3 separate regions of the Homo sapiens genome follow, and regions 2 and 3 are each linked to region 1. The links come from fine-mapping of genetic effects on gene expression. A gene starts in region 1. Each other region holds a variant in brackets. All regions are shown on one strand. Distances are between the middles of the regions.

Region 1 (2,761 bases):
ACAGCGGTACGAGGTAACTCCCAGCTTTTTCCACAGCTAATTATACATGTGAAAGTCTGAGGATGTTTTGCAAGCAGCACAGAGAAACTGCTGAGGTTTCTCTGCAAAGCTAAAGAAATTTAATTCGTGCACTCTCCTTCCCCACTCCTGCCAACTTCTCCCAGCCCACCTCCACCCCATGGCCCCAAAGTGCCCCTCTCCTAGTTCCCGCTGCAGCCCCTCTTTCTGCTGAAGATTTCTTTGGTTCCTTTTTTTTTTTTTTTTCCATCTCTCTTTTGGGCTTTCGAGAAAGGGAACAGACACGGAAAATATTTTTGCAACAGTTTTCCATCCTGCGTCTCATTCCCAAGCCAAGGGGGGAAGGGGAGGGCAGGAACGGAATGGGTTGAGGGAGGGGAGATAAATATTTTTTCCAAGAGCTCAATTTTGGTGTCAAAAAGAGAACCCTCCATTACCCTACCCCATAGCCCAGGAATGACAAGAACTAGGAAAAGAGAGATAAATCACTTGTTCGACTATATGGTTTCTCAGAACTGATAATAGGTAAAACAGTATTTGACAAATCTGTGCACACACACATATTTTAAAAAAAATCCTCCAAACCCAGTCGCATGAAATATTCTAGAAAGAGGAAAATCGGGGAGTTTTAGAAGCCATTGAGAGAAAAGAAAGAAACAAAGTTTGCAAATCACAAGTCAATTCATTCTCTGCAAGCCTACCTCTCTTTCTAGCAAAGATCCAGGTTTCTTCAGGCGGGACTCTCCCTCCGGGTTTCCATGGATGAGGGTAGGGTGGGGTGACCACCCACCAGTCTCCCCAGTGTGGCAACCAAGCTAGAGACGCTGGCTTTGCTCTCTTGCCTTTCTGGCTAAGGCCGGGGAGTGGGCTGGGTCTCCTCCCCCTGCCCCTCCAATGGGAAGGACCTCTCAGGTTCCTGAAAGAAAAAGGGTGCAGGAGAGCTGGGCGGGTGTCTCTGATCTTGCTCTCTTCGGAGGGATGGTGCCCCACGAAGTTCGTGCCCCCCCTCCCAGCCCCCAGCTTTGGACGATCTCAACAGCAGAGCTTTCTTAAGAAAATGCTTGTCATGGCAACAGCTCTAGCTAACTCGGGCCAGACTCTTGCTCACCAGCTCTCCCCAAGCAGTGCGGGAAGAGAGAGGGGAGGAGCAGGAGCTGGAACAGAGGTGGGACTTGGCGCGAGGCCAAACCATTACTCTACTGTTAAGGTGGCCCGATTCTTGCGGTTACTTCCTGGTTCGTCTTAAGGGGGAATGGGAAAAGAAAGGGAAGCAATCCTCTCCCCTGTCGGCTTTCTTCCCCGCCCTTGCTCTCACTTGTTGAATAGAAAGCTGAGTAGGGGTGGAGGAGGGGTGAGGGTGGAGGTGGGGAGTGGATGTGGGTGGCGGTATTCAACGGTTGCTGGGCGGAGGGGAAAAAAAAGGAAGCTTGGGCAGGCGGCTGGCTTCCTGCAGCTCCTACGGGCCTCTCAACCCCTTACTCACTTAGATCCAGGACCCAGAAACCCGAGGTGTCTGTGGACACTTGTATGTCCCCTCCTACCTTCCTGCTCCTGTCTGAATAGGGGGTTCCTTGGAGAAGGAGAATAAATTGTTTTGTAAACACACACACACACACACACACACACACACACACACACACACACACACCCGTCCTCCCCTACACCTTATATACAGGTCACATTTTGTTCCCTCTTGTCCCTGTACCCACCAGAGGTATACTGACAGTGCATGAAAATAGCTGCTTACTTTTGAGTCCTGCTATGCGTGGGCTATGACACCAAAAGCTTTGTCTATATGGTATCGTTTCTAGTCCTCATTTAATCTTGAAAGGTACTTATTATTAACCTCATTTCCTAGTTGAGGGAATTGAAGATTGAGTGTCTGGCCCAAGGTTATACATCCGGCTAATGACAGAGCCAACGATTCAAGACCAAGTCAGACAGACTCCAAAGCCCGAGTACTTTCCTGTACTTTGTATCATACTCCGGCACATATTTCCGTTTTAATTTGCACACACTCAGACATCCATGCACACTTATACACAGCCTGTAAACAGTTAATCACACCCCCATACCCACACACCCACTAGCATTGTGCAACAGTGCCACCCATAGATTTTGCATAGAACTTTATGGCTTTCAAGCACAAACATGCACCATCAGCTGGTTCACACAACATATCTTCATTGACTGACAGATTCCCACACCTACCTCAGCAAACACACTCATGTTTATATGCTTATGGAAGGCACATTGACATATGTCTCACAGGTTATAGCTATGAGCTATGCTGTGAAGAAGGTGACTGGCCACTACTTCCCAACCTTTTAAACAGAGGGTTGGGAAAAGGCCTCTTTGATCCTATCATTCTAACCCAACAGCTCACACCACCCCCTGTCCTTCTTTGCTGTCATCTCTGCCCCCAAGAAGCAGAGCCACATGTGCATGGAGAAACAGGGTTGTGAAACGGGGTCCAGTTTCCCCCGTGTCCAACTAGCACCCTTCCCAATGTTCTCTCATTTGGGTCCTCTTTTTCCTCTTCATTTTCTTACCCTGCTATTTCTTTTTTCTTTATGGTTTTTTTTTTTTTTTTTGAGACGGAGTCTTGCTCTGTTGCCCAGGCTGGAGTGCAGTGGCGTGATCTCGGCTCACTGCAAGCTCCGCCTCCGGGGTTCACGCCATTCTCCTGCCTCAGCCTCCCGAGTAGCTGGGACTACAGGCCCCTGCCACCACGCCCGGCTAA
Region 2 (2,761 bases), 77 kb after region 1:
CTACTAAGTTCTTTTTGCCCAAGGGTTGAAACCAAATACAAGTCGCAACACTTTATCATATTGGAGTCAGCTGTTAAGTTTCTGTTCCCAAGATGTGAGGAGGAGCAGTGTCTTACTCATCTTGGTCTCCTCAGCATCTAACCCAGCAACTGGCATAGAGTAGGACCTCAATCATGTTTTCAAAAAATTAATAAATGACTCCCTGGGCATGGAGATGAGCAATGTAGTGCACATTTGACTGATCTGATTTCTTCTTTTTTAAATCATGAATGTATTTCTTTTTAATTATTTTCGTAGAGACAAGGACTTGCTATGTTGCCCAGGGTGGTCTTGAACTCCTGGTCTCAAGTGATCCTCCCACCTTGGCCTCCCAAAGTGTGGGGATTACAGACGTGAGCCACCATGCCCAGCCATGATTTGATTTCTTGACAGAAACTCACCAAACATCAGGAATCTTTTCCACCAGCTCACTGGAAAATCCTGAAACTTAGAGAATCTCTCACTCCACAGCTGGCCGGAATGGAAGGCAAGGTTGTGGTTGGGTTACTGGTTTTTGCCCAGGTAGGAAAGTAAGGGAGCCTTTATGATAAGGATCATGGTCGCTGAAACAACCATGGTTGCTTCAAAAGTAGCCTCCTTGCATTATGCAGTTTTTTTAAAAAAAACTTTATTTTTAGTTATTTCTTAGAGACAGGATCTCACTCTGTTGCTCAGGCTGGAGTGTAGTGGCATGACTATATCTCACTGCCTCCTTGAACTCCTGGGCTCAAGTGATACTCCTGCCTCAGCCTCCCAAGTAGTCGGGACCACAGGCACACACCACCATGCCCAGCTCATTTTCAAGTTTTTTGTAGAGACAGGGTTCTGCTATGTTACCTAGGCTAGTCTTGAACTCCTAGGCTCAAGGGATTCCTCTGCCTTAGCTTTCCAAAGTGCTGGAATTACAGGTGTGAACCATTGCACGTGGCCTGTGCAGTTGTTTTGATTTCCTTTCTAAACAGATGAGAATGAAATATGAGCAAATCCTGTTGGGTCCTTCTAAAGAGGCTCTGGG[A/G]AGATGGCACTGGCTCTGTTTGTCTATGCCCAGGACAGCTCCTGGAGAGCAGTGGGGAAGCACAGGAAAGGGTCCCTGCAAGGCATGCTCAAGGTGGTGCTGTCAAGAACAGTGGAACTTGGCTGGGTGCAATGGCTCACGCCTGTAATCCCAGCACTTTGGGAGGCCGAGGTGGGTGGATCTCCTGAGGTCAGGAGTTCGAGACCAGCCTGGCCAACATGGTGAAACCCCATCTCTACTAAAAATAAAAATACAAAAATTAGCTGGGCATGATGGTGGGCGCCTGTAATCCCAGCTACCTGGGAAGCCGAGGCAGAAGAATCACTTGAACCCGGGAGGTGGAGGTTGCAGTGAGCTGAGATAGCGCCACTGCACTCCAGCCTGGGCAACAAGAGTGAAACTCTGTCTCAAAAAACAAAACAAAACAAAAACAAATTCCAGCATGTCCTGCCTGGCCTTTGTCCTGTCATCCCCATTACCCTGACTCAGTATTCTCAAAAGCCTGGAATATAGTTGCCTTCTAGTCTCAGGTTACACCAGAGCGGGGCACCTGGATGCATAGCACTCCTCCACCCCACCCCCACCCCATAGACTTTCAGGAAAGAGGAGTCAGCTTTCAGCAGGACTGCCAACCTGTCTGGAAGGAGGGAGGACAGCAAGCTCTGTAGCATCCCTAGAGAGTGGTTGCCCAGTCTCCCAAACTGCAGGGAGACAGCTCTCTCTCTCTCTCTTTGCCAGAGGAAGAATGAACTTCTGTCACCCTCTGCACTCAAGGAACTCCATCACCTCTAAATTATTTGTGTCAACCACTGAAGTCCAAGGAGAATTTCAGAGCTGGGAGAATTTGTTTGTATTTTCACAATTTATAATGCTCTTTTTGTCAGACCAATTTGCCAATACAAAAGGATGGCCTAACATACCATTATGGAGAGAGGAAACACAACAAGCAAACTAAAGCTTTTGCAACATCAAAGTGAATATTATCTTTGGCAAAATGTAAGAGAGATGTGGGGAAATAAAGGCTGCTGGGAAGGTTCTGTTACTAAGGGGTTTGTCAGCTGATCCCCGAGGCCCCTTTTGGCTCTGAAGTTCTGGAGAATTAGATTCTTTCCTACATTTATTCTGCTTTCTCTGTCCTTTTATCGCATGTGTTTATTTCACCAGCTTTGTTTCTTCTATGCTCATCACATTTGCATGCTGATTTTTCTAACAATGATAAGGAAAGTCTCTCTCTGAACGGAAATTTTGATAGCACAATGGGTGGACAGGACAGTTGTGATTTGTAGAAATGTTTCCTCACAGCTATCTTACCTGCATGAATATTCTTGCTGGGACTTCCTAGGGAGTGTGTCTTCTTGTCTTCTGTTCCTTGAATAATAACCTGATCATTTACTGACATGTTGACCTAAAAATAAATTCCATATCACTTCTCTCTCTCATTAATGATGTGTCAACTGTTATGCTACGAGATGCAAATATGTTATCTCATTTAAAATTCCTTTTTTTTTTTTTTTAACCAAGTCTCACTCTGTTGCCGAGGCTGGAGTGCAGTGTCGCCATCTCGGCTCACTGCAACCTCCGCCTCCCAGCTTCAAGTGATTTTCGTGCCTCAGCCTCCTGAGATTACAGGTGATCACCACCACGCCCAGCTAATTTTTTGTATTTTTAGTAGAGACGAGGTTTCACCATGTTGGCCAGGCTGGTCTC
Region 3 (2,761 bases), 120 kb before region 1:
TCAAGTGATTCTCCTGCCTCAGCCTCCGAGTAGCTGGGATTACAGGCATGTACCACCATGCCTGGCTAATTTTTGTATTTTTAGAAGAGATGGGGTTTCTCCATGTTGGTCAGGCTGGTCTCGAATTCCCGACCCCAGGTGATCCACCCATCTTGGCCTCCCAAACTGTTGGGATTACAGGCGTGAGCCACTGCACCCGGCCATAAGTCTTTTTCAACCAGGGCTAGATCCTCTTTCAGAGCCAGACTATTAAAATAGCCAGGAGAGTTTGGGGCGTTCTTCAATGTCATGCTTTTCCTAAAGGAATTTGGGGAGTGGACAAGGTCCTTTCCTCCTTATGATGTGTGTGTGTGTGTGTGTGTATTTTAGAGATGGGGTCTTGCCATGTTGCCCAGGCTGGACTTGAACTCCTGGGCTCAAGCGATCCTCCCGCCTCAGCCCCTTCCCCTCCCCAGTAGCTGGGACAACAGGTGTGAACCACTGTGCCTGGCTCCTCCCTGTGATATTTTAAAAGAGGGTTGGGGAACTTCGTCGTGCACCTGGATGAGAGCTGCAGGAAGGAGTTGTCTCAGATATGAAAGCTCAGAATGTAAATGACCTGCCAGGAAGCTGTTTTGACCTGAAACTGGGGCCTAATATGAGTCTCTAGCAAGACTCAATTAATGAAAGACATTTTTTAAACCATAGGGAAGTGAGGGGGAGGGTGGAGAACCCAAGGGAAAGGCGGCTAATGTAAGGGAAACTACTTCTCCTAAAAGACATTTCATATAAAACAAACCAAAACCAAAACCAAAAAAAACAAAAAACAAAAAAAGGAAAGAAAAAAAGCAAGGACTGCCAAGACTGCCTCTTTCTTATTCTTCCAAAAGCTCCAGCTCCTGAACTGTGGATTCTAACCAAGGTGGGTGGAGCACAGCTTGCACTGCAAGGGAATGAAGCCAATGCGAAGGCCCAGAGGGAAGGGAAGCGTTGTCAGAGTCTGGTGGTAAGCTGAATTCTGTGCCTGTTTAAATGGGGTTGTCCTTGTGGTTGCGGCATTTCCCTTCTCAACTTCAACAGACAATCAGTGGCATTACCCAAAAGTGGAGACGCATTGAGGACAGCACAGTTACAAGTGGGCATGAGTTTTTATTCTCAGTGCACAGCAGTATTGGTTTCTGTTCATCAGCAAAAAGCTTTATTGGCTCCAACAAATTATCCCTTTTAAAACTCCTCTTCTTCTTCTGGTCTCAGTGGAACAACACATTTGAATTTCAGATTTGCAGTTTATAGCATTTTTTTTCCCTAAGAACCATATAAATACATGCAAAACCTTGTACAT[A/G]GAGCTTAAATAATATCAAAATGCAAATATAGATTGGGTGCACTGTTAAGCTGAATTGCAAATTATGGCAACACACACTGGACTGGGGTATACGTTGCTTTGATATCACCATTTGTTTGTTTATGTCATGCAGACCACAATAGTCAATCTTTTGTTTTTCTTTTTTGTACAAAAATACCAGTGCTTGTTATACTAGTTACTAAAAGAAGAAGAAACTCAAAATTCCTATCTGCGTGCTAATTTGAAAAGAACAACGTAGATAGATTTGTTGGCACATATATATGGCATATTCACATATGGCATATATACATATGGGGAGAAAACATGAACCAAAGGCCAATTCAGTTATGGGAGCTCATCTCCTTCCATCTCTCCTAATCAAGAGCAAAGGGAACAGCAGGCCTAACAGCAGGGTTGGGAAGGCAAAAGGACTGGCACTGAACTAAGTGAAAGGGCGTCTGGTCTATTCAGAGGAAGAGGCTGGAATGGCTTAACAATAGCAGGCATTTATAAGTGCCCACCCTCACCAATGCATCGGGGGTGGTCCCTAGATATGAAAGGTGAGGAAGTCTCTGCATACTGTGATGGTACCACGGGCTGCTTCAATTGTAAGGCAAAGGAAGCAGGAAAGAAAGGAAGGGATGCATTTAGAGGCTTTTCCACACAAGCGAGTGTGCCACGCCCCTCTGGGTTTTCAGCAGTGAGGTAACCATTCAGATTTAACCATGCCAACTCTCCTCTCTGAAGCTCAAGGGGAAGAAGAAACTCAAACCCTAAAGAACCCACAAGTGTCCAGAGGGATTTCTAGGTGATCTCTCTCTTAACCCCTTTAGGGACAGGAGAGTCATTCCAGAGGACAGATGATACTATGGGAAGGATCTAGCCTTAAGACTGTCACTCAGGGCTAGAACCAGCCATTGTTTTATCCATTTAGAATTCTGTCCCCATTTAATATATTGCACAAAATCTTTCTAGGGGAGGGAAGGCATCACAAATAAGATCCTTGCACAAAAACTCACTAATGGAAAACTCCAGGGGGAACAGGAAATAAAAACCATGAAAAATGCAAACCCCAAATCAGAGTATCCTTATAGACCAGGAGATATTCGTGTCTTTTATACCACTCTGCCAGCTATTCTTCAAGAAACACAAATCCAACAGAGGCCCCTGATCCTAATGACTAGTCAGGAAAGATTCTGTCTATCCATCTGCATGGTGGGGGTTGGGGGGAAGATTCATTTCCTGACAGCTGTGTCCCTTGCTGGGTGTTTTCCTGACTATCCACAGTTTACTACCCGTTTTTCTAGGTTTATTAAGAGAGGAAGCTAGGATGATACGTTCTCCTTCTCCCCATCAGACCCTTTTCAAATCCAAAGCACCATTTTGGGGAAAAGTGTTATTAACTTATGCCATATTTACCCACTGCCAGTTGGATCAGTG

Which allele goes with the higher level. Alleles are on the strand shown, and positions count from the first base shown. SD is a standard deviation of normalised expression in the study named. Not every link is listed here.
For the expression in esophagus mucosa of the gene that starts at base 1,107 in region 1, A is the high allele of the variant in region 2 and G is the other (small effect, 0.27 SD a copy in GTEx).

What was found. PIP is the estimated chance that this variant, and not a neighbour inherited with it, causes the effect.
Region 2: its variant is fine-mapped to the expression of ATP2B4 in esophagus mucosa (GTEx, PIP 0.92).
Region 3: its variant is fine-mapped to the expression of ATP2B4 in whole blood (TOPMed, PIP 0.98).

The regions. Positions count from the first base shown.
Region 1 is chr1:203,625,178-203,627,938 of GRCh38, reverse strand. ATP2B4 (ATPase plasma membrane Ca2+ transporting 4) reads right to left here and starts at 1,107. Exons shown (of 21, transcript NM_001684.5): 1 at 720-1,107. RefSeq lists enhancers at 366-1,238, 1,239-2,113.
Region 2 is chr1:203,548,360-203,551,120 of GRCh38, reverse strand. No RefSeq gene overlaps it. Among named protein-coding and RNA genes, the nearest start is that of OPTC, 56 kb to the right of the region's middle. The variant A/G (reference allele first, on the strand shown) is at 1,055.
Region 3 is chr1:203,742,429-203,745,189 of GRCh38, reverse strand. It overlaps ATP2B4 (ATPase plasma membrane Ca2+ transporting 4), which reads right to left. Exons shown (of 21, transcript NM_001684.5): 21 at 1,109-2,761. It overlaps LOC102723543 (a long non-coding RNA gene), which reads left to right and starts at 631. Exons shown (of 2, transcript XR_426890.4): 1 at 631-985. The variant A/G (reference allele first, on the strand shown) is at 1,322.